Homo sapiens: one gene and its partners. Each later gene encodes a partner of the first gene's protein in a complex. Each region holds a gene or a part of one and is shown in the gene's direction. Other genes may lie near its edges. The genes, in order: STRAP, GEMIN4, SNRPD1 and GEMIN5.

Region 1 (7,034 bases):
CATGTTTATTTTATAATATTTTAATAATTTCCCTCACCATATATATACTTAGCTACCAAAACATGACAAACATAATTTTGTTTTATTATATATTTGGTATCTTTCAGATTTTATTATGTGGACATTTATGTAGTCATAAATCTATAAAATTTTAAAGAGTAATAAGAGAGTCAGAACCACATTGGAAATTAAGCGGTTATTCTCTTGAGATACCTTCCATTTCTGAGAACTTTTTAAAATATTTTACATTTTAATGTTACAGTAATTTGTTATGAAAACATTTTTAAGGTGAGGAAACAAAGCGCATTTGCAGATTTTTTTATTCTCCATTGCATGTAGAAGTTTTTTTCTCCTTTCTTTTTTGATAAATCTATGCCAAAACATAGCAAAGGACTCTGACCTCACTTCTTCTATGAACCCATTCAACAAAGCAAGGTAGTTCAGGGATTGGGTCAAAGCAAGGTAGTTCAGGGATTGGGTTGACATTTTTCATGCTCTTTACCTTTCCCAAAGCTGTTTTATGAAAGTTGCTCTTTCGCTGTGCTGGCAGCAGAAAATAAAATGAGGTTTTACTGTGTATCGGGTATCTGTTAAGCCCTATTCGCATTTGTAACCATTGTTATCTCATTTTACAGATGAGGAAATAAAGTTAAAAAGTTAAGTAACATGCCCAAAGGTGAAAATAGTGTTGAATGGCATTGCCTCCAGTGTCTGCTTTTGCCCCTAGAGACAGCAGTGAGGGTTTTTTGAAGTTCTTCGAAAGGATAATCTCCTACAGATTTAAGCTCCCTTCCTTTTTTTTTATGTTTTCCTCACAGTGTAGAAACATTCTTGGGAATTGCTGTCCCACTTTCTATTTCCCTTTTTTCCTTCCAACCCTTATTTCTCATTATTTACTATCAATAGCTGCTTGGATAAACGTCCCAGAGTTAGCCATAGTACTGCAATCAGATTCAACTGTTTTGTTCCTGAGTCCGTGTTCTTATTAAATTATGCCACGTTAATTATTTTATTAATAATATAATAAATACTTTTTATTATATATAAAATACTTTTTATTTATTATACATATAATAAATATATACTTTTTATTATATATAAAATTCTTTTTATTATACATATAATAAATATATACTTTTTATTTATTATACAATAATGCTTTTATATTTATTATACTTATACAATTATACAATAATGCTTTTATATTATACAATAATATTTGTATTATTGTACAAATAAATATTGTATATTATACAATAATGCTTTTATATTTATTATACTTATACAATTATACAATAATGCTTTTATATTTATTATACATATAATAAATATAAAATACTTTTTATTTATTATACAATAATGCTTTTGAATATTATCAGTTGTGCAGAAATTTAGCCTAGAGGGAGTGAGTGGTGCATTCACTCAGCTACATATAGCAAGCATGGTAGTTCCTTGGGTCCCTGTCATGCAGATAAATTTATGTTCCAATATAGAAAAACTAACTGTATTCTATATAAACATCAAGTTTGAATTGGGCTGGGCTTTGAAAAGTTGCAGTCTAATTTAAAATGTGTGTTTTTAAAAATATATAATTGTTCCGATATTGTTCAGTTTAAAAAATCATATATTAACAAATGTACTTTAAATTGTTTTATCTCAAGAACCTAAGGAAATTAGTGGTCATACTTCTGGTATAAAAAAAGCTCTGTGGTGCAGTGAGGATAAACAGATTCTTTCTGCTGATGACAAAACTGTTCGGTAAGTAATTTTTCTTTAATAATTTACAATTTAAGGCCGGGCATGGTGGCTCACGCCTATAATCTCAGCACTTTGGGAGGCGAGCCGGGTGGATCATTAGAGGTCAGGAGTACTAGACCAGCCTGGCCGACATGGCGAAATACTGTCTCTATGAAAATTACAAAACTTAGCCAAGCGCGGTGGCACACACCTATAATCCCAGCTACTCGGGAGGCCGAGGCAGGAGAATCACTTGAACCTGCGAGGCAGAGGTTGCGGTGAGTCGAGATCGTGCCATTGCACTCTAGCCTGGGCGACAGAGCTAGACTGTCTCAAAAGAAAAACAAACTTAAAATTTGCAAAATATTTTACCTTAGAGCTTATATTTTAAATACATTTAATATTATGTGTGAAAAATGTTCTGAACATTAAAATTTAAGTTGCACCCAGGTCACATTTATCTGGAGCTATCTATTTACTAATACAGGTTGAGTATCCCTAACCTGAAAATCTGAAATTTGAAACGCTCTGAAATCTGAGACTTTGAGTGCCGACTTGATGCTTAAAGGAAATGCTCATTGGAGCATTTTGAATTTCCTATTTTCAGGTTAGGAATTCTCAGTTGGTAAGTGTCTAATGCAAATATTCCAAAATCCGAAAAAGTTTGAAATCCAACTTTTTTCTGGTCCCAAGTATTTTCAATTAAGGGATGCTCACCTTGTGTATACAGACAGCAAAATTCAGAAGAAAATTAAATTGCTGATACCTTATAAGCAGGTGTTTTTAACCTGGGTCTGTGGGCAGAATGGTTAAAGGGAGGGACCATGAAGCCTCTGAAATTCTATACAAAATCTTGTGTGCTGACACCTGATGTATATTTCTTTGGAAAGATGTGTAGCTATTACTAGATTCACAAAAACAGAGTGTAAGAACCACTATTTATAGCAATGCTGAAATTGACTAGATTAGAACTTGTCTTAATAATGTAGTTTTGCCAAATTGGGAAGTGTATGTAGGTATTAAAGTTGATTTTACTTACAAGCTATCATGCATAATTTGACATTGTATATAGAAACCCAGAATTTTTTTTAATCATCTGTAATTTGTGACTTGGAATGAATGTTGTTTTTCTGTAATTGTGATTGTTCTTTCGTTGGCTAATCTGCAGATGTAATTAGAATTTATAAACTTTTTTCTTACATGAGTAAACATCATATTTTTATCTTTATTTTGCAGACTTTGGGATCATGCTACTATGACAGAAGTGAAATCTCTAAATTTTAATATGTCTGTTAGTAGTATGGAATATATTCCTGAGGGAGAGATTTTGGTTATAACTTATGGACGATCTATTGCTTTTCATAGTGCAGTAAGGTATGTCCAAGAAATACTTTCATTTTCTTTTTTAGGTAACAAAAGACATTTTGGCTACTTAAAAATGGGAAGGTATTTACTTTTTTTAAAAGTAAAGAGGCCAGGAGTGGTGGCTTATGCCTATAATCGCAGTACCTTGGGAAGCTGAGGTGGGAGGATGGCTTGAGATCAGCCTGGGCAACACAGTGAGACCCCCATCTCTACAAAAAATAAAATTAGCTGGGTGTGGTGGCACACGCCTGTAGTCCAGCTGCTTGGGAGGCTGAGGTGAGTATTCTATTGCTGGAGCCTGGGAGGTTGAGGCTGCATTTTGCTGTGATCTTGACACTGCACTCCAGTCTGGATGACAAAGCAAAACCTCCTCTGAAAAAAAAAAAAAAAAAAAAGCAAAAACTACTGAAATGGTGCTGTCATTAATGTTTTTTACTATATAAAACCAGTGTGGGCTGGGCGTGGTGGCTCACGTCTGTAATCCTAGCACCTTGGGAGGCTGAGGTGGGCGGACCACTTGAGGTTAGGGGATTGAGACCAGCCTGGCCAACATGGTGAAACCCCGTCTCTAAAATAAAAATACAAAGAGAAGAAAAATTAGCTGGGTGTGGTGGTGAGTACCTGTAATCCCAGCTACTTGGGAGGCTGAGGCAGGAGAATTGCTTAATCCCAGGAGGTGGAGGTTGTTTTGAGCTGTGGTCACACCACTGCATTCCAGCCTGGGTAACAGAGTGAGACTCTGTCTCAAAAAAAACAAAAAACAAAAAAACAGTGTGATCTTGATTCTACTATTTATTTTCACCTTAAAGTTTTAGAGAAGGAATAATCTTATTTCTGTTCCTGAGTATTTGCAGACTTAATGAATTTTTTAAACAGATTTGAATTTTGCGACTTTAAATGTAGTAAATACTCTTGGAGAAAGACTGGAATATATAACATAATTGAAAAAAATGTACCCACAATATTATACCCATAGGTGCAAGAGTGATAATGGTAGTTATATTTTCTGCTAGTCCATTTTTCTATGTTATATATGTGGGTGTACAGTATTTGTGTTTTTTTTTTTAATTACTAGGACCATAATGAATACCATTTTGATTTGTTTAAAAATATTGTTAGCCATTTAAAACTTCTTTGAAAACATTTTTACTTGATACACTGTATTTGCATCATAGGTTGTACTAAATTATGGGTTAGTTTCCCTGTTTTAGCACCACGGTGAATGTTCTAGCACATCTCTGAGTGTTTCTTTACAGTAGATAGGATCCTGTAAGTAGAATTATCAGTTCAAAGGCTAGAAATGAGTTTAAAGTTCTTAGTTATACATGACACTTAATTGATTTCCATAAGGATTATACCACATTACACTTTGATATTTGACCAGTGTCTTAACCTTGTGTCTAAAGGGCTAACTGGGAGAAAGAAAAGGCGGTAAAATTGGAGGAGAGCAATTAAGCAATGTCAAGGAGTTTATACACATACAGTAAACTGATAGTAGTAGAATACTATGGCCTGGAGCCATCAATTGGTTTATTAATGCTCTTCACTCACTCCTGCAGTTAGGCAAATCCCATGTTGGTGGCAGAAATTTTCTGGACCATTGAATATTCTAGCATTTGAGCCAGCAAGTTGCTATGTAGTGATCCTGCATAAGTCATGACTAACTTTAATTAACATGCTTTAAAGTATATGATGATGGGAAGTATTTAGGAGCTGGGATACTATAATGTTTTGTATTGGAGGCCTTTCATGATTTTTAGGGTTAAACTGAAAAAGCTAATGTCCAAACTGTAATTGAATTTCAGATGAAGCTGTTATTATGCATTGATTTTTATTATATAACTATAGCCCCAAATTTTGTTAGTCTTTTACTGCCTTATAGTAGAAACTGTTTTCAGCAGTTTATATTTTATGACATAGAAAGTTTATCTTGCTGAGGAGCTTAAACCTTCAGCAATTAATAATAATATATAAATAATCCTTTATGTTAATTACCTACTGTGAAAACTTTTTCTGTTTACAAAGATAATATGTGGTTGTAGAAAAATGAAACAATACAGGTGAAGTTTATTTAAGAGCAAAAATCCCAGTGTATTATTCATACTGTTTTAATTAGCCAACACACTCATTTCCGGGAAGACATCCACTGCATAAACTGGATATCCCTCCATCAAGATGTCTTTGTATTGCTGAGATGAGCTCCACTTGGGCATAGTATCCATTTGATTTTTTTTTTTTTTTTTTTGCTAACAGCTTTTTTTACATCAGTGTTTATGTTTGAGTAAATGAGTATTTAATTGTTCCTTGGGTTTCAGAATTTAAGAACAGTTCAAATGTAACTCGTTATTTATACCATATTCAAGATTTGTAAATACTACTTAAATTTTTTTTCAGTTTGGACCCAATTAAATCCTTTGAAGCTCCTGCAACCATCAATTCTGCATCTCTTCATCCTGAGAAAGAATTTCTTGTTGCAGGCGGTGAAGATTTTAAACTTTATAAGTATGATTATAATAGTGGAGAAGAATTAGGTGAGTTGTCCCCTTACAGTGATGTGGTTACCTTTATCATATGTTAAGTCCCAGTAATTAACACCTCATTTATATATATATATATGTTACATATATATGTTGAAAGTAAATTTTTCAGCTAACTTAAGCTTGGTGCTTACAAGTGAAAAAGTAAAGGAGTTTTAACCATTTGGGTCAGATGCTTTTATAGATCTGTAAACAAAGTATGCAGAAATTTATCCTTTTAACTAAAGTTCATCATTATGCTGATGTTATGTATTATGGTACAGTGAGTTTTAGGCTTTATTGGCTGGGAGGGAGGGGGGAATCTTATGTCAAAGTCATATGCTAAACACATGCAAGGAGATCCGTTCTTTCTGAACTATGTTGTGGGTGTATAACCCCATCTACTTGGCCCGTCTTCCTTTTTGCCAACTTAGGAATTCCTAAGACTCCGTAAAGAACAGTGTGTGGGGGAAAAATCAGTATAGCATATTACAGGGATACCTTTAGGAATCTGAATTGGATAGTTATTTTTATCAGCTTTTTATTTATTCTGTTTTGGAGTTTGAGTTTTGCTTTCATTTTCATGATAACAGTCCTTAGTAAGGGAAAGGGAAAGGCATGGGGATTAATTTGAAGTTAATGTATATTTATCTGATGGACCAGGTATTTCACATAGTTACATGTGGTTCTCAGTATCTACTTTTAGCCTTTCCAAATAGTTTTTGCTTTTAGGTCAAAAATATGTTTAGTTTTTATAAATATATATTTTTATCTATAAGCTGTCTCTTCTTGTTCTTGTCTGTTTCTAGCTGCCCTGCTTTACCAAAGAACGAAGCTTGCTAGATTACACCCAAAGAACAAAAGACAATTTTACGTTTTGTTTCTTGGGGAACATTGATGCATCTGGGTTGCACAAATGGAACCTTGGTGATGGACCATGTAGAATCTATTTTAATTGCTTATGGTTCAGTTTTTATTACTTGAATACAAGTGATTTATAAATAAGATATTCTTTTCTGTTACTTTTATTTAATGCTAGTTTTCAAAGTTTTAGAATGTTTTTGGTTTCATATTTTATTCTTTTTCAAGATTGAGAGAACTGAATTATTTGCCCAAGATCTGAAGTCACAGTGAATACCAGATCTGCCTAGCCTTTCTCTTTCCAAAACCTTGTGTTCTTTGTACTCTTACAACTTTTCTATTCTCTGGTGGGACACAGATGGGAGACAGAATAGGAACATTGGTCTAGTAAAGGGCTTTGAGAACTAATAAGGTGATGAGGCATTAGAAAGTAAATGAGAAAGGTTCATACTTAAAGGTACTACTTGAATATAACAGTGCTCCTAATCTATACATTTTCTCATTAGGTTCCATGGATTAAAATATTTATGGATCATTGTTGATCTATATCTCACC
Region 2 (7,099 bases), on another chromosome or scaffold:
CGTTATCAGTACCAGCTCACATTCCTTTCCTTATTTGGAAAGAGGACTAACTTTCTAGCTCATTACAGACACCCCTTCCCCTTCCTCTCCGCTTTCTTTTACGGGCCCACCCTATCTAAAAAAATCAAATGTTTAGCCAAGCGCGATTAGTTTAGATTGTACGACCTGACCCCGGCCAATGGGGAAAGGGTAGAGGGGCAGGACTTGTGTCAGGAACAAAGGCTCTCGTGCCCCTTTGTTCAGGTGTGCTCTCATGACAACTGGCCAAGGAGGCACCCCTCTGCACAGAAGTAAAATTGCTTTGCTAAGAATCCTTTGTTCGAGTGTTCTATTTCCTTAGGATTTTGAGCATTATTCCTAACAAGTATTTAAAAGGGAAAGAGCAGGAAGGGAGGGAAGAGGGAAAGGAAAAATACAGGAGGGTAGGTAGGGAGATAAGTGGTTACATTCTTATTAGGCTTTGATCAGCGCTCACCAAATCTACATGTCACAGTGAAAGGAGGGGGTAGAGGAACAGTCAGTTTTGCATTCAGCTCAGTAAATCTACATTTAGCACTCACCAAATCTACATGTTACAGTGAAAGGAGCAGGCAGAGGAACAGTCAGTTTTGCATTCAGCTCAGTAAATCTACATTTAGTGCTCACCAAATCTACATGTTACAGTGAAAGGAGCGGGCAGAGGAACAGTTACGCATTCAGCTCAGTAAGTCTACATTTAGCACTCACCAAATCTACATGTTACAGTGAAAGGAGCAGGCAGAGGAACAGTCAGTTTTGCATTCAGCTCAGTAAATCTACATTTAGCGCTCACCAACTCTACATGTTACAGTGAAAGGAGCGGGCAGAGGAACACTCAGTTATGCATTCAGCTCAGTAAATCTACATTTAGTGCTCACCAAATCTACATGTTACAGTGAAAGGAGCGGGCAGACGAACAGTCAGTTATGCATTCAGCTCAGTAAATCTACATTTAGCGCTCACCAAATCTACATGTTACAGTGAAAGGAGCGGGCAGAGGAACAGTTATGCATTCAGCTCAGTAAATCTACATTTACTGCTCACCAAATCTATATGTTACAGTGAAAGCAGCAGGCAGAGGAACAGTTATGCATTCAGCTCAGTACATCTATGTTTTGTCTCGGCTGGTGAGGGATGGTTTCTGGTGTTGTCTTTGTCCCTTACCTATGAAGATAAGCTGTTAATTTATATTGTCAGGTGAGGGAGACCACCTGGGGAGATATGTGGCCTTCTGTCTTGTAGCTTATCTGTTTAGGAACAAAAGGAAGTTTTTTGCATATTCCATGACTCAATTTCCAAGCTTAACTTTTCCTTTTCGCTTAGTGAATTTGGTCCCAAGATTTTATTTTCCTTTCACAGTATACCCCATGCCCATCAATCCCATTCCCCCTGCATCCTATAGGTAACCTCTTCTTAAGCAAATACAAATAGATAAATCCTTATTTTCTGTTTTTTTTTTTAAAACTTTATTTTACTGTTACTTTCTGCTGTCCTAATTATGGCACATTTTTACTTTCTAGGTTCTGTGATTTACAGAGTGGTCTGGCTATGTGGACAGCTTCTAAATTGTCACCACATTTTGGAGCAAGATGTATTATTTTTACAATTAATTTACATTTAACATGAATCATGATCCTAAGTGCATCAGAATGTCTTCATAACATTCGCCAAAGAAGAGAGGGCAGCACTGCTGTTCTACAGTGTGGCTCTCACCTGGTCCACAGTTACCAGAAATAGTTCTTTCGTTGCTGTGATGTCCTGGGTGGGCTTCATTCTTTAGTAATGTACTTTGTCTACAGCAACTTCCTGCAACTATGTGAACAGATCTTGAAGACACACAGTGAGGTTTGGTTTCCTTTGTCCTCTTAAGTCTTTATGGTTGTTGCTTCTATTGTTTATTGGTCCCAGTGAGAACTGCAGCTGACCTGATGTCATGATCTGTGAAGATAGTTTCTATTAAAGAAGAAGTACCAGGAAATCCCATATGCCACCGTAGACCTGCCTTTCTGGATACCATTTACTACTCCATACTCCAGCCGCCATGCACAATGGTTGTGTATGAGGCTCCTGTGATCATTAACAGGAGTAGAAGCTGGGCTCAGACACTCTGGCACTTGCATAGGTCAAGGGGTGTGTTGTGCTCTTGCAACAAATCCCACATAGACATCCATATGCATATTGTCCCACCGTCCCCTAAGCAGAAACCAGGGTTAAGTACAGAATAGTCCCGGGAACATTTTGGTTGCCCGGCCTTAGGTGAGCCTTTCTGGGGCTGGGATTTTGACACCATCTGCTCCATTGTTTCTAAACTGCTGTGTTCTGGCGCATCAATTGTTTCATCACATTATCATCACGGAAAGCTTGGTCTCCCTCAAAACATGAACCGGGTAGGCCCTGTGTTCCAGTGGGGGCTTTTGGACTTGACTTTAGTGTTTAGGAGGACAGAGTCCCTCTCCCCTCTGTGGTGCTGGGGTATTAGTAAATCAGCCTTGAAGAGATAAGGGGCTGGGGCCTCAACCTCCCAAGAGGCTGTCACTGGAGAATGGTCTCCTGCCCTCAGATCTTGGGCATTTCCACAGCACACTGTCCCCCTCGTCCTTCCAAATACCTACATACGCTCTTGTAATAGGAGAGCTGGGAACTCCACCCAAAACCATACAAAAAGTTAGTCTGTGTATTTGGACGCCTCCCCAGCACTCAGTCACCGAGTTTCTCCTTTCCAACAGCAGTCACTCTCATGCAGTTTAAGTGATTTATTGATGTCTCGGCTAAGCTTGCGACAGTTTCAGGACATTTCAGCCATCAAGGTCTAAGAAGCCCTTTCCATTCCCGAGGAGCCCTCAGCCAGCCTCCTTCTTCCTCATCTCCTCACTCTGGCCGCGTAGCCCCTCATGGCGTCCATCTTGGACGCCCCTTTGTTCGCGCTCCACGCCCCCCACTTCCTTCTTCGTCAGCTCCTCCACTTTGGCCGCGTAGCCCCTCATGGCGTCCATCTTGGACGCCCCTTTGTTCGCGCTCCACGCCCCCCACTTCCTTCTTCGTCAGCTCCTCCACTTTGGCCGCGTAGCCCCTCATGGCGTCCATCTTGGACGCCCCTTTGTTCGCGCTCCACGCCCCCCACTTCCTTCTTCGTCAGCTCCTCCACTTTGGCCGCGTAGCCCCTCATGGCGTCCATCTTGCACGCCCCTTTGTTCGCGCTCCACGCCCCCCACTTCCTTCTTCGTCAGCTCCTCCACTTTGGCCGCGTAGCCCCTCATGGCGTCCATCTTGGACGCCCCTTTTTTCGCGCTCCAAGCCTCCCACTTGGCCCTGGCTCTCACGTCTGAGGCCGGAGGGCCGGGGATGTCGCAGTCGCCCTGGGTGGCCTGTTTGTACAAGCCGTAGACCAGCAGCTTCTCCTGATCGCTCACGGGACCCTTCAGCTGCTTGAGGGCCGCGCAGCTCGAACTCCACTTGGCACATGGGGTGGTGGAGGCGGTCCCTGGTGCTAGAAGCTGGAGGTGGAGAGTTGGAGTGGCTGTTACTACTCGATCTCAGGGGGAGGAGACAGGCACGCGATGTTTGTGTTTTGTCAAGCACAGATTGCAAGCTCGGGGTCCAGCGTAAACCCCACCATGTTTGGGCTCACACGGCGCATTTTCTGGGGAGGACCAGCCGTCAAAAAGCGTCTAGGATCCGGAACGCTGCTGTCTGGAGGGGGCGGCGCGGCAGGAGCGCGTTGAGGGACTGTATGTGGCGCGAGCTGGGCGGGTGGGAGTGGAAGCCTCGCGTGGTGCGGCCGCGCTGGGTGGTGGGCGTCCCGGGGGAGGCGCTCGGTGGGGGTGAACTGTGTGCGGGGCACGCCCGGGGTTACCGGGTGAGGGTGAATGCGGGGCCGGGGAATCATGAGCCCGACCCGCTGGGACCCCGGAAGAGGGGCCGGGCAGGGGACGGTGCGGAGGGGTCTAGTGAGCGACGTCCGGGTACCTGAGGGCTGGTGGGAGGGCTCTGCCGGAAGGCGGCGCTGTGCGCTTGGCGCGCTCGTTCGTGAGGACTGCGCGTGCGCGGCGGAGGCTGTGGGCGGGGCCGGGCGGAGGTTGTGAGCAGGCCTAAGCGCGGCCGCCGTGGCTCCTGCGTCTCCCATCGTGCCGTGCGTCCCGCGCCGCGTTCGAGTTCTCGGAGGGGAGGGGGCGTTAGCCCCGCGCAGCCGCCGGCGTCGCCGCCATGGACCTAGGTGGGTGCCGCGGCTCCCCGGCCCCGGGCTGCGTCCAGCAATGCGCCACCAGAGCGGTGCTGCCCCGTCGCGTCTCCTCCTGTCGCGCACGCTCGCGCGGGCCCGGACCGAAACGTCCCCCGCGTCGGGGCGGGTCTAGGGGTCCCGGGGTGGCCTTGGCGGGGGGTGGTCCGGGTCCCGCCGCGCGTTGGGCCGCGTCTTGCCGCCTCCGGCCCCCTGCGCTTGAAAACACGGAGCAGACGTGAAGTTAGAGCCCTTGGAAGCGCCCGGGGCTCGCGCACGTGCTTTGGGAAACGGGCTCCCTCCGAGCACCCCTGGGCGCCCCGACGGCCTCATTTCCTGAACGGCAGCTGCGTTCTTGAGCAAGTGTCTTAACGCTCCAAGTGTCTTACGCTCATGACGTTTCCTCATCGACAGAGCGGGGAGAATGGAAGTGTGTCTCCCCACTGAGTTTTGGGCGACTTTGCATTGAGATCGCCGAGGTACAGTGTCCCTTGTGGGGTTGCGCGGGTCACACCCGCGGTGGGGGCGGCTGCGCTCCTGAGGTATCACTTTGTGAACCTGCGTGCGTCCGGATTCAGAATCTTACAGGCAAGGTCTGGGAGGGAGCCCATAGGAACTAGATGCTCCCTGCTAAATCTTGGCACACGCTGCTAAGACCAGGAGGCTGTTCTGGGAGAGCTGGGGGTGAGGCACCCCGAGATGTGTCAGCAGTAGTAGGCTGGGGGGAAATGGTCTGGTCCCCGCCCCCAGACAGCTTTTCAGGAGCGGAATGGCAGAGCTCTAAGGGCTTGGAGCCCCTCAGCCGTAATTGCTTCCCAGCCCCACCACATTCAGGCTGGGACACCCTCAGCAAATCGTTTCTGCGCCTCAGTGTCCTTATCTCTAGAGCAGGAATACTAGTCCTCAAAAGGTGATTGTGAATAGAAGAGATCTTACCTGTGTACCACCTAGCACAGTGTCTGGCATGGAGTAGGTGCTTAATAAACCTAAGAAGCGGGCTGTGGCAAGCACTAGTTAACCATCCATGATAGAGTACCGGAGTATTTTCCAGCTAGTAACCGCCCTGGGACTTACTACTTCAAACTGTGCGTACTTAATGCGCCTGGAAGGCAGGTGTTTAGGGCCAAACATCTGCTCAACTAAGCCAATAATGCAATAAAATTAAATTTACAGCGTCAGGAGGGACTATATTTTGGGACCCTGGGAGAGCCTCCTGAGCCAGAAAGAAGGGCGGTAACCCCCAGGGAGGTCCCCTTCGCAGCGTAACCCTCCCTGGGAGTCGGTCTCAGCCACTGTGAGATGAGATGGATTGCCTCCACAAGTGGGTTACATAGTGCTGAGCCCTTGGCCTGCTGCCGCTCCCATAAATGGTGGGAGGGGTAAGATGGTCCTTAGTCTCCTGGAGTCAGTGTTTTCTCTGCTGGTGTCTGGCCTGTGAAAATGGGGAATATGAGCTCTTGGGGGCATGACAGACTGAGGAAGGAGTAGCATCTCTCACTCCTGGGAAAGGGGAGATGACTCAGGAATGAGGAATAGGGAGCAGTGTTTGCACCCTCGTTTTAGTTTCTGGGCCAAAGGAAACATACCTGATAAAGACCTACATCCTTTGATGTTTCTGAGCTGGGGGAGGCAAAGAATAGTGACAAGATTCTGGTCTTGCCAACCATGAAAAGGTTTGGGGAAACCAACATTTACTGAGCACCTAATTAGACTCTGTAACTGGATTCTTACTGTAGCTCTATCTCATTTATCCATCATAGCGTCCCGGGGAGATGGGGTCAGGAGATAGCAGTGCCAACCCACTAGCAAGGGCTTGACTGGTATATATCACATGATCCCCAAAGGCATAACATGAAGTCTGTATTATCCCCACATATGCAGAAGGAAGGCTTGGAGAAGCAATCTGACCAAGATCACATCCCTTTTTTTTTTTCGGAGATGGAGGGGGAGTCTCACTGTGTTACCCCAGCTAGTCTTGAACTCCTGGCCTCAGGGATCCACCTGCCTCAGCCCCCCAAGTAGCTGGGATTACAAGTGCTAGCCACTGAACCTGGCCAGAATCACATCATTTTTAAATGGCTGAACTAGGATTTAAACCCATGTCTGATTAAACATCCCAAGATGTTTTCCATGGTAAGTCTGTGTCAATCGTTAGTTCCCTGAAGGAAGGCTTAATCTAGCACAGTATTTTCTGTATCTACTCCCTGGTTTCTCCCACAGAGCTAGGGCCATGAGTACCTTGTTTTTGACTGGAAGGAGCTGTGGGGTGGACCGTTTCCCTGAAAGCTAGAAGAATGTTTGAAGCCTGTTCCCAAGGCAAGTTTATAAAGAGTGAAGGCAGGGCTTGTCTGATTCCTTCTGTGCCCATTGCTCTGTGGCTATGTGATTGCTCTGTGCCCATTACCCTGTGGCTGTGTGACTGCTGCTGTGCCCGTTACCCTGTGGCTGCGTGATTGCTGCTGTGCCCATTACCCTGTGGCTGTGTGATTGCTCTGTGCCCATTATCCTGTGGCCGTGTGATCGCTCTGTGCCCATTACCCTGTAGCCGTGTGATTGCTGCTGTGCCCATTACCTTGTGGCTGTGTGATTGCTGCTGTGCCCATTATCCTGTGGCTGTGTGATTGCTCTGTGCCCATTATCCTGTGGCTGTGTGATTGCTCTGTGCCCATTATCCTGTAGCCGTGTGATTGCTTCTGTGCCCATTACCCTGTGGCTGTGTGATTGCTGCTGTGCCCATTATCCTGTGGCCGTGTGATTGCTGCTGTGCCCATTACCCTGTGGCCGTGTGATTGCTCTGTGCCCATTACCCTGTGGCCGTGTGACTGCTGCTGTGCCCATTACCCTGTGGCCGTGTGATTGCTGCTG
Region 3 (7,034 bases), on another chromosome or scaffold:
ACTGGATATTAGTGCATTGTGTGTTTGGAAGTTCTGTATTTTAGGCCGGGCGCAGTGGCTCACGTCTGTAATCCCAGCACTTTGGGAGGCCGAGGCGGGTAGATCACCTGAGGTCAGGAGTTTGAAACCAGCCTGACCAACATGGTGAAACCCCATCTCTACTAAAAATACCAAAAAAGTAGCTGGGCATGGTGGCAGGTGCCTGTAATCCCAGCTACAAGGGAGGCTGAGGCAGGAGAATCCCTTGAACCCAGGAGGTGGAGATTGCAGTGAGCTGAGATCACGCCATTGCACTCCAGCTTGGGCAACAGAGCGAGACTCCGTCTCAAAAAAAAAGAAAAAAGAAAAAAAAAGCTCCGTATTTTAAAAAATTACAAGAAAATAAAATAAAAAGTTATGTATTTTGTTTACAACTACGTTGAATATTCTTCAGGTTTTTGGAGGGAAACAAATTTTCGTGGGTAAATACTCGAGTGGAGTTGATGGACTGTAACATAGTTATGTGTTTAGCTTTTTAAGAAATTTCCAGACCATTTTCCAAAGTGGTTGTACCATTTTACACTTCCATTAACAATATATTAGAATAACAATTGGTCCACATCCTCACCAGTATGTGGTGTTGTTTGCTCAGTCTTTAATTTTAGCCATTTTAGTGGGTATGTAGTGGTATCTCCTTAGGGTTTAGTCGGTTTTTTGCTTATTTGTTTGTTTTTGAGGCGGAGTCTCACTCTGTCACCCAGGCTGGAGTGCAGTGGCATGATCTTGGTTCACTGCAAGCTCCGCCTCCTGGGTTCACGCCATTCTCCTGCCTCAGCCTCCCGAGTAGCTGGGACTACAGGCGCCTGCCACCACGCCCGGCTAATTTTTTGTATTTTTAGTAGAGACGGGATTTCACCGTGTTAGCCAGGATGTTCTCAATCTCCTGACCTCGTGATCCGCCCGCCTTGGCCTCCCAAAGTGCTGGGATTACTGGCGTGAGCCACTGCGCCCAGCCCAGAGTTGTAGAAATTAGATCTGTGTCCTGGATACCAGTTCTTTGTCAGATGTGTTTTCTCTCAGTGTGTGGTTTACATGTTCATTTCCTTAATAGTGTCTCTCTTCTTGTAGCTCAGGCTGGAGTACAATTGTGCGATCTCAGCTCACTGCAACCTCTGCCTTCCAGGTTCAAGCGATTCTCCTACCTCAGCCTCCCAAGTAGCTGGGATTACAGGCGCCTGCCACCACGCCTGGCTAATTTTTGTATTTTTAGTAGAGACAGGGTTTCACCATGTTGGTCAGGCTGGTCTCGAACTCCTGACCTTGTGATCCACCCGCCTTGGCCTCCCAAAGTACTGGGATTACAGGCGTGAGCCACCATGCCTGACTGATCGATTTTTATGTATCTGGAACTCTTTAAGTCTTTTTTTTTTTTTTTGAGATGGAGTCTTGCTCTGTTGCCAGACTGGAGTGCAGTGGCGCACTCTCGGCTCACTGCGACCTCCACCTCCCAGGTTCAAGTGATTCCCCTGCCTCAGCCTCCCGAGTAGCTGGGACTACAGGCATGTGCCACTATGCCTGGCTTATTTTTTTTGTATTTTAGTAGAGATGGGATTTCACCACTTTGGCCAGGCTGGTCTCGATCTCCTGACCTTGTGATCTGCCTGCCTTGGCCTCCCAAAGTGCTGGGATTACAGGCGTGAGCCACTGTGCCCAGCCTATATCTGGAACTCTTGGGCTCAAGTGACTATCATCCATCTTGGATTACTTTTGGAAAATGGTGTTAGTGGTCCAGGTTCGTTTTTTTTCTGTATGGATTTCCAGTTATTCCAGCATCATTTGTTGAAAACACTTTCCTTTGCCTGTTACACGTCTTTGGCACCTTTGTAAAAAATCAACCATATAAGGCCAGGCTTGGTGGCTCATGCCTGTAATCCCAGCACTTTTCGGAATCCAAGGCAGGCAGATCACCTGAGGTCAGGAGTTCGAGACCAGCCTGACCAACATGGTGAAACCCCGGCTCTACTAAAACAAAAAGAAATACAAAAATTAGCTGGTTGTGGTGGCGAGTGCCTGTAATCCCAGCTAAATCAACCATGTAAATGTGGGACCAGAAATAGATCTGTTTGCTTGTATTGTTTCATTGATCTATTTGTTGTTCCTTATGTCTCGATTACTGTAGTTTTAACTTGTATATGTACTGCTCTAGTCACATAATTTGTCTTCCTAGAGATTATACTTTGGTCTCTTGTCTTTCTAAAATCTGTTTCTGAACATTGGCCCTAGGTTCTCTTTTAAATGTGAATATGAGCCTGGTACTCCACTTCATTGATGAAAATCCTTCAGTAGCTCTCCTAGAGGAATTCTTTAACAGAGCTTAGGCTTTCCATGAAAGGAACCTGCCTAACTCCTCTCTACTCATAGGACCTAAAATATTGAACTTAACATTTCATCGGCCAGGCGTGGTGGTTCATGCTTGTCATCGTAGCACTTTGTGAGGCCGAGGCAGGCAGATCACTTGGGCCAACATGGTAAAACCCCGTCTCTACTAAAAATACAAAAATTAGCTGGGTGTGGTGGCATGCGCCTGTAGTCTCAGCTACTTGGGAGGCTGAGGCACAAGAATCTCTTGAACCCGGGAGACGGAGGTTGCAATGAGCTCAGATTGAGATTGCGCTATTGCACTCCAGCCTGGGCAACAGAACAAGACTCCATCTTTGTATCTATAATTACTCTGTGTCTTATGCTGTATTTTTTCTTTTGTTTCTTCTTGCTGCATATTTCCAACTTTTCAGGCTTCTTACTAGGAGTCCCCTAATACCTGACTCCCCTCTCCACATGCTACAATATATTCTTAGTAAAAAACCTGTGTGTAGCTGGGTGCAGTGGCTCACGCTTGTAATCCCAGCACTTTGGGAGGCCAAGGCAGGCTGATTGCTTGAGCTCAGGAGTTTAAGACTAGTCTAGGCAACATGGCAAAACCACATCTCTACAAAAAATTTAAAAATTTAAAAAATATTAGCCGGGCATGGTGGCATAGTCTCAGAAAAAACCTAAACTAAAAACCTCTGTTTAAAAAAAAACACAAAAAAAACCTCTGTATATCTTTATTGCTTTCTACAACTTAGTTATTTTTACGTATCTTTTATGTATCTGAGCCACCGCGCCTGGCCACATAAGGTTTTTTTTTTCCTTTTATTTATCTTCTTTGCTTCCAAAAATGATTTGAAGAACTTTTATAGTAAAAGTTCTTACTAACTGGGATAGTAAATTCGTGTAAAAGATAAAAACAAAAACTTGATAATGGGAGGAAACCATTAGTTCAGAATTCTAGGCTTTTCTAGTTATAATTGATTGTTAAATTTGGAGCTGAATAACTCTCTGGTGAAATAAAGTGTTACCAATTCGTTGAGAAAAACGTTTTCTTGATGTCATATATAAAAAGAGATTCAACTCATGAGTCTTCTTAAAGTTTGAGGCTTGTTATATCCCAGACCAAGTAATTTCTTTTTTGTGATGGCTGTCTATACCACTAAAAAAAAAGAAATTAAAAAAAGGCATTTTAAGGTTGGTTTCCCTTTATTCATTAAAACATTTCAGCCAACATTATTCAGTGCCTATTACAGTCTAGGATTAGATATAGAGCTTACGATCCCTACCCTCAAGAATAGTCTAGTGCGGGAGGATAATAGGTTATCTTATGTGTACCATTTAGTGTGATGATAGGATCTGTTAATTCAAAGTATATATTATAGACTAAAAGTTTTTATATGAACTGTGTATTGTATGATAGTGTGGGGTTCATTTTCTTAGATGTGATTGTGAGATTATGGTTATATAGGAGAATGTCATTAGAAAATGCATGCTGAAGTGTCGTAATGCCTACAACTTACTTTGAGATGGTGTGATCAATTTTTTTTCGTTTGTTTTTTTGACAAAGTCTCACTCTATTGTCCAGGCTGGAGTTTAGTGGTGCAGTCTTGGCTCACTGCAACCTCTGCCTCCCAGGCTCAAGCAATTCTCCTGCCTCAGCCTCCCCAGTAGCTGGGATTACAGTCAAGTGCCACCAAGTCTGGCTAATTTTTTTGTATTTTTAGCAGAGACGGGGTTTCGCCATGTTGGCCAGGCTGGTCTCGAACTTCTGACCTCAGGTGATCCGCCTGCCTCGCCCTCCCAAAGTGCTGGGATTACAGGGATGAGCCACCACACCTGGCGAAGACTGTCTTTAAAAAAAAGGGCCAGGCCTGGTGGCTTACGCCTGTAATCCCAGCACTTTGGGAGGCCAAGGTGGGCAGATCACCTGAGGTCAGAAGTTCGAGACCAGCCCAACGGGTGAAACCCTGTCTCTACTAAAAATACAAAAATCAGCCAGGTGTGGTGGCAGGCGCCTGTAGTCCCAGCTACTTGGGAGGCTGAGGCAGGAGAATTGCTTGAACCCAAGAGGTGGAGGTTGCATTGAGCCAAGATCATGCCACTGCACTCCAGCCTGGGTGACAGAGCGAGACTCCGTCTCAAAAAAAAATAGAATTTTAAAAAAAGACGGAGTCTTGCTCTGCCACACAGGCTCCAGGGCAGTGACACAGTCATGGCTCATTGCAGCCTCAAAGTCCTGGGCTCTAGCGATCCTCCCACCTCAGACTCCGAGGAGCTGAGACTACAGGCATGAGCCAACAGGCCCAGCTAATTTTTTTATTTGTATTTTTTTCGAGATGGAGTCTTGCTCTGTCACCCAGGCTGCAGTGCAATGGCATGATCTTGGCTCACTGCAACCTCTGCCTCCCAGGTTCAAGCGATTCTGCTGCCTCAGCCTCCTGAGTAGCTGGGATTACAGACCTGCACCACCACACCTGGCTAATTTTTTGTATTTTTAGTAGAGATGGGATTTCACCATATTGGCCAAGCTGGTCTCCAACTCCTGACATTGTGACCCGCCCACCTTGGCCTCCCAAAGTGCTGGGGTTACAGGCATGAGCTACCGCACCCGGCCAACTAATTTTTTTTTTATTTTTATTTTTGTAGAGACAGGATCTTGCTTTGTTGACCAGGCAGGTCTCGAACTCCTGGCCTCAAGTGATCATCCCACCTTGGCCTCTCAAAGTGGTGAAATTACAGGCATGAGCCACTGCACTGGCAATTGACAATATTTGTAAACCCTTTAACTTTTCATCCTCTGCAAAATTTTATAAAAAGGGGAGAACGGAAATTTAGATGAAGTGAGAAGTGGATAGATTGTTCATTATATATTATCAAGGCAACTGGCTATTCAGTTGGGGAAAGTAATAAAGACAGATTTGTGCCTTACACTGCATAAAAAAGATCAATTCCAAGTAGATTAGAACTCTAAAAGTAGAAGAAAATAAGACACTATTTTTTTACAATCTTGGCATAGAAAAAACCCTTTCTTAGGTAAATTATGTATCCCAGGAGGGTGAACAAATTCAAAACATAAAAGTGAAAAAAGTTTGTGTGACTAAAGAAACCATAAACAACAAACTTGAATGACTGGCAAACCAGTAGAAAATAAAAGAAAAACTCAACCTAATTGAGAATGTCAATAATGTGAACAGGTAATTCACGGAAGAAATAGTTTTCCCATGTTAATGAAAAGATATTCAGGCAGGGCGCGGTGGCTCATGCCTGTAATCCCAGCACTTTGGGAGGCCGAGGCGGGTGGATCACGAGGTCAGAAGATCAAGGCCATCGTGGTTAACATGGTGAAACCCCGTCTCTACTAAAAAAAAAATACAAAAAATTAGCCAGGTGTGGTGGCGAGCGCCTGTAATCCCAGCTACTCGGGAGGCTGAGGCAGGAGAATGGCGTGAACCTAGGAGGCGGAGGTTGCAGTGAGCCGAGATTGTGCCACTACACTCCAGCCTGGGTGACAGAGCGAGACTCTGTGTCAAAAAAAAAAGATAAGATATTCAATCTCACAGGTAATTAAGGAAAAGCAAATTTTTTCCCCATCAAATTGACAAAAATTTGAAAGACTTATAGCAACTTGTGTTGGTGAGGGTTTGCATAATTGGGTTTGTAATGGGAAAAAATTGAACCAAAGTAATGTCCGTCAACAGGCGGTAATAAATTTTGACATTTCCATATAGTGGAATACTTTCCAGTTCTTAGAATGTTATTTTGTTATTTTGGCTTTTTGTGAGATGGAGTCTTGCCCTGTCACTCAGGCTGGGGTACAGTGGAACAATCTCACCTCACTGCAAATGCTGCCTCCCGGGTTCAAGCGATTCTCATGCCCCAGCCTTCCAAGTAGCTGGGATTACAGGCGTGCGCCACCTTGCCTCGCTAATTTATTTTTATTTTTTTTTAATTTTTTTTGAGATGGAGTCTTGCTCTGTCCCCAGGTTGGAGTGCAGTGGTGCGATCTTGGCTGACTGCAATCTCTGCCTCCCAGGTTTAAGCGATTCTCCTGCCTCAGCCTTCTGAGTAGCTAGGATTACAGGCGTACGCCATCCTGCCCAGCTAATTTTTGTGTTTTTGTAGAGATGGAGTTTCACCATGTTGGCCAGGCTGGTCTTGAATTCCTGACCTCAGATGATCCGCCCTCCTCGGCCTCCCAAAGTGCTGGGATTATAAATAGGCATGAGCCATCACGCCCAGCCTCAGTTCTTAGAATGTTTTGTATGTTGAAATGGAAATATGTCCAATATAAACTGCTAAACGAGGACTACAAGTTATAGACGTGAATAAAATATGACCCAATTTATGTCAAAAGAAATCTGTATATATCCTTCTGAATGCATATAAAGTGATCTGGAATAATATTCCTACATACCCACAGTGCAGGGGGTTAGGAAGGGAGATTTTTACTTTATAGGCATTATAATAAGCTTGTAATCTTTTTACCGACTGTAATTCTTTATTTCTTTTTTTTTTTTTGAGACGGAGTCTCGCTCTGTTGCCCAGGCTGGAGTGCAGTGGCGTGATCTCGGCTCACTGAGAGCTCTGCTTCCCAGGTTCACCCCATTCTCCTGCCTCAGCCTCCCGAGTAGCTGGGACTACAGGTGCCCGCCACCATGCCCAGCTAATTTTTTGTATTTTTTAGT
Region 4 (7,085 bases), on another chromosome or scaffold:
TTGTTTGAATTTCCTTTTTAAAATCTACTAGAGCTACATAGATGGCATGTGCCTGTAATCCCAGTACTTCAGGAGGCTGAGGCAAGAGAATTGTTTCAGCCCTTAAGTTTGAGACCAGCATGGGCAACATAGCAACACTTCATCTAAAAAAATAAATAAATAAAAATTAAAAAATTTTTTAAATCCTAAGAGATAGGTACTAACATAACGCTCATATCATAAAAGTGATAACTGAAGCTTATTAAGAATAAGTAACTTTTCCAAGATCACAGTTAAAAAATGGATTCATATACAACTCATCTGTCTGCAAAGCCTATGAACTAAACCAAAATCAATGCTAACAAATGGACAGACCAGAAAATTTACAATCAGATTATCAATTTTCAAATACCGATTTTTTATTTTGGGGAGAAATACAGCGACTACTTACCCTAACCTTTAATGAATGCTTTTGTCCTAAGGCTACAGAATGCTCTGGTATAAAGCTTCAAAATTTCCTACAACTGAGTGGCCTTAGGCAAGTTATTTTACGTTTGGGGACTTCAATTTCCTTGTCTGAAAAACGGGTATAGCAGAACCTACTCGTAGAATGTTATGAGAGTGAGTTAAAGCATATAAACCGCTAAACACAATGTCAGGTACGACGTAAAGCAGAGTTGTCCACAACACGGTCCCTGCCCATGTAAGCAAGTAATCAGAGAGGTAACTTGAAAAGTTGGACGCTTCCATATGGAGATGGAATAGTCTAACCTTGTCCAGAAAGATCACAGTAGACGTTCGGAAATCGCATTTACAATCGCCCTTGGGTTATGGGTAATCCTGATCCCTGTACAGTTTATGCAATAAGGTGGAGAAAAAATAGAGTGACAAAGCAGAGACTCGGGCTGTCTCATTCGCCTCAGTAACCCCAGAGCCTAAAACACAGTTAGGCACGGAGGCGCTCAGTTACCAACTGGCAGAATACTAAAGATGCCTTGGGCCCTTCCGAAACTCCGAAGCGAGAGACTCACCCCAAGGCCAGCTTCCCCCGGCTCCTCAGGTTATGTATCCATAACGCACCTGCAACATCAACACAAGCCGTCAACTCAGATTCCATCTCGACTCCCTTCTGTCGCTTAACCACTAAGAAATCCTTACCCAACTGTCCCAGTACTGCCGCCGCCATCTTTCGCCCTCCCGCTACGGAAGCCGCCGAGTTCAAGCGCCTTCTGGACAGCACGCATGCGCAATACTCTGGATTTCCTGTGGGGCTCTCCCACAAGCAGTACTTACACCCCAGGTGCCGTCACGAAGATCGCAAGCACTGGGCCGGCGCTCGAGGTGTGGTCAGGCGAACCTGGCTTGGGAATGAATTAATTAATAAAGGCCGAAAGCACGTGGGCTTCCGAAAATTCACCTGGATTCAGAAAAACTAAAGTCCCAACTCACAAACTAGAAAGGAGTAGGGGAACAGAATCCGTGAACAAGCCACCTAATCCGGTGGTCCTCAGTTTTCTTATCAGAAATGACTAACCTTAGGGCACAAGCTTGTTGTAAAGATCAGTTGAAATAGTGTGAAAGCTATTTTATTTCATTTTATTGAAACAGGGTCTCTCTCTCGCTTAGGCTGGAGTGTGGTAGCAATGACCTAGTCTCACTGCAGCCTCGACCCCGGGCTCAAGCCACCCTCTTACCTCAGCCTCCCAAGTAGCTGTGACTACAGGCGCACATCACCACGCCCGGCTAATTTTTGTATTTTTTATAGATAAGGAGTTTCCCCAAATTGCCCAGGCTGATCTCGAATTCCTGGGCTCAAGCAATCTGCCCTCCTCGGCCTCCCAAAGTGCTAGGATTAGAGGTATGAGCCACGAAACCTAGCCTAAAATCTCTTTTAAAGAGCAAATAGTTCAAATATGATGTATGCTGTCCTAATCCCTACTAATCTGGTTGACCTTCAAGAATGAGTTTATATTCATCTGGCATTTACTGCCTTATGTCAGGCAGGTATTTCACTAAATCTCATTTATTCCTCACAGCAATCCAACAAGGCATGGATTATCATTTTCCTTCTTCAAATGAGGAAACATATTTAGGATATGTTAAAGTCTCTCAACTAACAACTGGCAAACCAGTGATCAATCTACGACTAGGTGCCTCCAAATTTGTGCCCCTAGACGCCTTCAAATATATGTATTTGACCCCTCTGTATTAGAATAACAGGTAGTTCAGATTGCGGTTTGCTACCTATGCAGGAATGTCAGATACCCAATGCAAACAAGCAACACACGAGTAGTGCAGAATCTGAGCATTTTAGCATTTTTGAGTTGAAAGGAAACTTTCTTCCACACCATTTACCACATACAGCTTCCTTCACACAGCTGGCCCTCAATCAAGCAAATCAAGAGTCACTCCATTTGCTTCTCCTTCATCTTTGAGTACCCAGAACCCAGAGCCAGAATTTCCACCCAGTTGCAGAAACTGTTCTTTCCCTTTTTAATTCCAGATTCGTACTTTCATATTTTTGTTTGTTTTGTTTTTTTGAGACAGGGTCTCACTCTATTGCCCAGGCTTGAGTGCAGTGGCTCGATCACAGCTCACACCAGCCTGTCTCCCGGACTCCATATTGTAATGCCCAACCTTGTTTTTACTAACCCTGTTTTTAGACTCTCCCTTTTTCCTCTGATCACCTAGCCTTGTTTCCACTTGAATTGACTCTTGCTTAGCTAAGAGAGCCAGACAGACTCCATCTTGGCTCTTTCACTGGCAGCCCCTTCCTCAAGAACTTAACTTGTGCAAGCTGACTCCCAGCACATCCAAGATGCAATTAACTGATAAGATACTGTGGCGAGCAATATCCGCAATTCCCAGGAATTCGTCTGATTGATAGCACCCAAAGCCCCCAGTCTATCACCTTGTAATAAATAGTCTTAAAGCCCCTGCACCTGGAACTGTTTACTTTCCTGTAACCATTTATCCTTTTAACTTTTTGCCTACTTTATTTCTGTAAAATTGTTTTAACTAGACTCCCCTCCCCTTTCTAAACCAAAGTATAAAAGAAAATCTAGCCTCTTCTTCCGGCTGAGAGAACTTTGAGCGTTAGCCATCTCTTGGCCACCGGCTAAACAAATGGACTCTTAATTCGTCTCAAAGTGTGGCGTTTTCTCTAACTCACTCAGGTACAACAATATTTTTGTTAAGTGGCCTCTTGTGCATATCTTTTTTTGTTTTGTTTTGTTTTTATTTGAGATGGAGTCTCGCAATGTCGCCCAGGCTGGAGTGCAGTGGCGCAATCTCTGCTCACTGCAACTTCCGCCTCCCAGGTTCAAGCGATTCTCCTGCCTCAGCCTCCCTAGTATTTGTTGTCTAGGGATTGTTGCATTTTACTTTTTTTTTTTTTTTGAGATGGAGTCTCGCTGTGTGGCCAGGCTAGAGTGCAGTGGCGTGATCTCCGCTCACAGCAACTTCCGCCTCCCGGGTTCAAGCGATTCTCCTGCCTCAGCCTCCCGAGCAGCTGGGATTACAGGCGCCTGCCACCACACCCGGCTTATTTTATTATTTTATTTTATTTTTGTTTTTTAATAGAGACGAGGTTTCACTATGCTGACCAGGCCGGTCTTTTAACTCCTGACCTCGTGATCCTCCCGCCTCGGCCTCCCAAAGTGCTGGGATTACAGGCGTGAGCCACCGCACCCGGCCTCTTGTGCATATCTTTAAAACACCTCCACAACTAGCAAAGTGCCCTGGCACATAGCGCTCAAAAAACGTTGGACGGGATAGTGGTTGAACAGCTCCAAATAATAAACTGGTAGCCTGGGGCGGTGGTTCCACTAGTCTAATCCTCTAATTTTGTGCCTTTCTGTGGGAAGTGAGAATGCTTAACCTCGGGGCTGTGCTCAGGCAGCACCTGACCCTAGCCAGGGTTGGGGCGGACCTCCTACCGCGGGCTAGGTACTGAGGGCCAGTGCAGCACGCGTGGTCCCGCCCTTCCCAGCCCGGCGGTAGCGGGAACGCAACGCGCGGTGCTGGCTGGGCCTCGACGCGCACCGTAGCGACTGCCCGAGAAGGCGGGGCTCGGAGTTCACCCCGCCCCGCTCCCTACCTAAGGCGTGAGGCTACGAGCGGTCGGCTGTGGCAGCTTCTCTTGTCTCTGACGGCTTGTAGTTATGGGGCAGGAGCCGCGGACGCTGCCGCCCTCCCCCAACTGGTACTGCGCCCGCTGCAGCGATGCCGTGCCCGGGGGCCTCTTTGGCTTCGCCGCGCGGACCTCCGTCTTCCTTGTCCGCGTGGGCCCGGGCGCAGGCGAGAGTCCAGGGACACCCCCGTTTCGAGGTAACTCACCACCCTTGGGCCCGAGACTTACTGCCCTTTGTACGCTCCCCAGGGGCGCCGAGTGGACGACTCCACCCCGTTTTCTACAGCTAGGGAAACTGAGGCCCAGGCTGGGAGGAGAGGCAGCCCACAGTCACTAAGCTGAGTTGCTTCTGGTCTCCTAATGAGCTACACCATGCTGTGGCCGAGCGGTCCCGCCTCCTGGAGCTTCCACGTGGGGCCGCTTGCTTACTGAAAAGTTAGCCTTGTATAGTCTCGGCCATTTATATGGCTCCCCTGCCCAGCCTGGTGCGCGCCAGCCCCCCGGGAGCCTTCCTGGGGTTGGGGGCTAACCACAGCTGCAGGCCCTAAGCAAGATCCTGCAACGTGTGGCATTCCTTACTGTAAGATGAATGGGTTGAACCAGATGCTTTCAGGCTCCAAACTAGGCTTTGATTGTGCCTTAGGATATGACATGCCAGGTGATTTATTCTGGCCACATCTAAATAAGAGTCACTTTCACATTATTTGAGCTGCTTTCCAGTCTGTGAACTAAGCAGAGCAAGGTATATCAACATTCATTTCACAGTTGAGAAGCTGAGGCTCAGAGACTTGTTCGAAGTCACGTGGCACAGCCAATATCAGCACTTGGGAATTCTGAGTGTAAGTCCGTCGGTGTTTCAGTTATACCATGGGTTAAGTAACTCCAAAGCATCTGCTCACTTGTCATCCAACAACAGTATGATTCTGCCAGGAACCTTGGATAGCACTTCGATTAACCTAGCGTCTGGTTTTGCTTAAAGTCATAGGAGAGTTGGTGGGACACACCGAAAGGGTCTCTGGCTTCACATTTTCTCATCACCCTGGTCAGTACAACCTCTGTGCCACCAGCTCCGACGATGGGACTGTGAAAATATGGGATGTAGAGACAAAAACAGTTGTGACAGAACATGCACTCCATCAGGTACCATGGCTTACTGGTTTCTCAAACCGTTTTTATCTATCTGTGCTGAGGGTTCTTCTGTTGCAAGCTAGTTTTGCTAGCTCATCTGTGCAAAGTAACTTGTAATTGTGTTCATTAATTAGATAAGAAACTATATTGTAAGATGTCTCAACTTTTTTTGAAAGGAGATATATACAAACCAGAGGTTGGCAAACTGCTCTGTGCCTGTTTTTGCAAATAGGTTTTATTAGAATACAACCACACTAATTCATTTAAGTATTGTCTATGACTGCTTTCATGCTACAAGAGTTGAGTAGTTGCAACAGGCATGGTATGGCCCACAAGGTCTAAAACAATTACCCTCTGGTTATTGATACAAATGGACTCCTGATATAGACTGTAAATGCGTGAATGAAACTCATTTCTAAGCTAGATAGTTACTTGATGTACCTGCCTTTTGAGAGAACAAAGGAAAAGACCTACTTAATAAGAACTTTGCATTAAGCTATTTAAAAAATTTTTAATGATTATTTGATCCCCAGTAGTCTAAATCTTCCCACCATTTTGTTAATATCGTGTTGCTATAGAAGTACTACTAATAAGTATTAATTACTTTTTTTTTTTTTTTTGAGACGGAGTCTGGCTCTGTCGCCCAGGCTGGAGTGCAATGGCGGGATCTTGGCTCACTGCAAGCTCCGCCTCCTGGGTTGACGCCATTCTCCTGCCTCAGCCTCTCGAGTAGCTGGAACTACAGGAGCCCACCACCACGCCCGGCTAATTTTTTTATGTTTTTAGCAGAGATGGGGTTTCACCATGTTAGCCAGGATGGTCTCGATCTCCTTACCTGGTGATCCACCCGCCTCGGCCTCCCAAAGTGCTGGGATTACAGGCGTGAGCCACCGCGCCCGGCCGTATTAATTACTTTTAATGTGTATATGTAGCATTATGCTGGTTTGTGATACAAGTTAAAAATTAAGTAGAACTTCAGCATTGACAATAACAAATTTTTGTTTTGTTTTAAAGCATACGATATCAACATTACATTGGTCTCCTCGAGTAAAGGACTTAATAGTATCTGGGGATGAAAAAGGAGTAGTTTTCTGTTACTGGTTTAACAGAAATGACAGCCAGCACCTCTTTATAGAACCCAGGACAATTTTCTGTCTTACTTGTTCACCTCATCATGAAGATTTAGTAGCCATTGGGTAAGTACTATGCCATCTGTATTGATGATTTTTGTTTGTTTATGATCGTGTTTTGCATTTTCTTTACCTTCTCTGTCCTTTTATTCCTCAAAGGAAACCATCTACAGATGTTAACCACTCCCCCTGAGCCCCTGGCATCATTTATTCCTCCAGGTCTTTACTGTCTCTGCCACTCCGTTTTTGTTTCCTTGGTTTCCATGGTACTGTACTTTCTTCGTTTTTCGGATCTAACTCCTCCAATCAACCTTTACGTGTAGGAAATGTCCTCTTTCACCTTTTTCGCTTTCTCTACTGCCCGTTGATACAACATGAACTCCCAGGTGTCAGATGACTTTGCTGGGTCTCTCTAGTTCTGAGCGCTCCCTTTAGATTGGGAAAGTGATGCGGCATTGGGATCTGTTTCCTTGTTGATCACCAAGGTTGTTTCACATGAGCTGCCTGAATATACATCCCCGTTTCTTTCACCATTTCATGTACTTCTCACTGAAAGATGTCTATTTTCTCTAATTTGAAGACTTAAGCAATTTCCCTAGAATGTTGAAGGAGAAATTCTGATTGGAGTGGATTTGAAAGACTGGGGGCTAAGGCAATAGAGATACACAAAGAGACAACAACTCTTTCACAAAGTTTGTTGTAAAAATGTGCATATA

Evidence for each region.
Region 2: STRAP (region 1) and GEMIN4 share a complex: the UniProt entries of both Homo sapiens proteins name them as parts of the SMN-Sm complex.
Region 3: STRAP (region 1) and SNRPD1 share a complex: the UniProt entries of both Homo sapiens proteins name them as parts of the SMN-Sm complex.
Region 4: STRAP (region 1) and GEMIN5 share a complex: the UniProt entries of both Homo sapiens proteins name them as parts of the SMN-Sm complex.

Annotation. Positions count from the first base shown.
Region 1 is NC_000012.12:15,892,386-15,899,419, forward strand, and holds part of STRAP (serine-threonine kinase receptor-associated protein), read left to right. Parts: intron 1-1,661; coding exon 1,662-1,758; intron 1,759-2,973; coding exon 2,974-3,111; intron 3,112-5,496; coding exon 5,497-5,633; intron 5,634-7,034. UniProt on the Homo sapiens protein: The SMN complex catalyzes the assembly of small nuclear ribonucleoproteins (snRNPs), the building blocks of the spliceosome, and thereby plays an important role in the splicing of cellular pre-mRNAs.
Region 2 is NC_000017.11:749,265-756,363, reverse strand, and holds the start of GEMIN4 (gem-associated protein 4), read left to right. Parts: upstream 1-4,099; 5' UTR 4,100-4,221; coding exon 4,222-4,231; exon of another isoform or gene 4,232-4,713; intron 4,714-6,115; exon of another isoform or gene 6,116-6,367; intron 6,368-6,454; exon of another isoform or gene 6,455-6,528; coding exon of another isoform or gene 6,529-6,550; intron 6,551-7,099. UniProt on the Homo sapiens protein: The SMN complex catalyzes the assembly of small nuclear ribonucleoproteins (snRNPs), the building blocks of the spliceosome, and thereby plays an important role in the splicing of cellular pre-mRNAs.
Region 3 is NC_000018.10:21,615,291-21,622,324, forward strand, and holds part of SNRPD1 (small nuclear ribonucleoprotein Sm D1), read left to right. Parts: intron 1-7,034. UniProt on the Homo sapiens protein: Plays a role in pre-mRNA splicing as a core component of the spliceosomal U1, U2, U4 and U5 small nuclear ribonucleoproteins (snRNPs), the building blocks of the spliceosome.
Region 4 is NC_000005.10:154,935,191-154,942,275, reverse strand, and holds the start of GEMIN5 (gem-associated protein 5), read left to right. Parts: upstream 1-4,064; 5' UTR 4,065-4,142; coding exon 4,143-4,308; intron 4,309-5,090; coding exon 5,091-5,251; intron 5,252-6,253; coding exon 6,254-6,435; intron 6,436-7,085. Other genes in the region: MRPL22 (large ribosomal subunit protein uL22m), read right to left, coding at 1,011-1,059, 1,138-1,165. UniProt on the Homo sapiens protein: The SMN complex catalyzes the assembly of small nuclear ribonucleoproteins (snRNPs), the building blocks of the spliceosome, and thereby plays an important role in the splicing of cellular pre-mRNAs.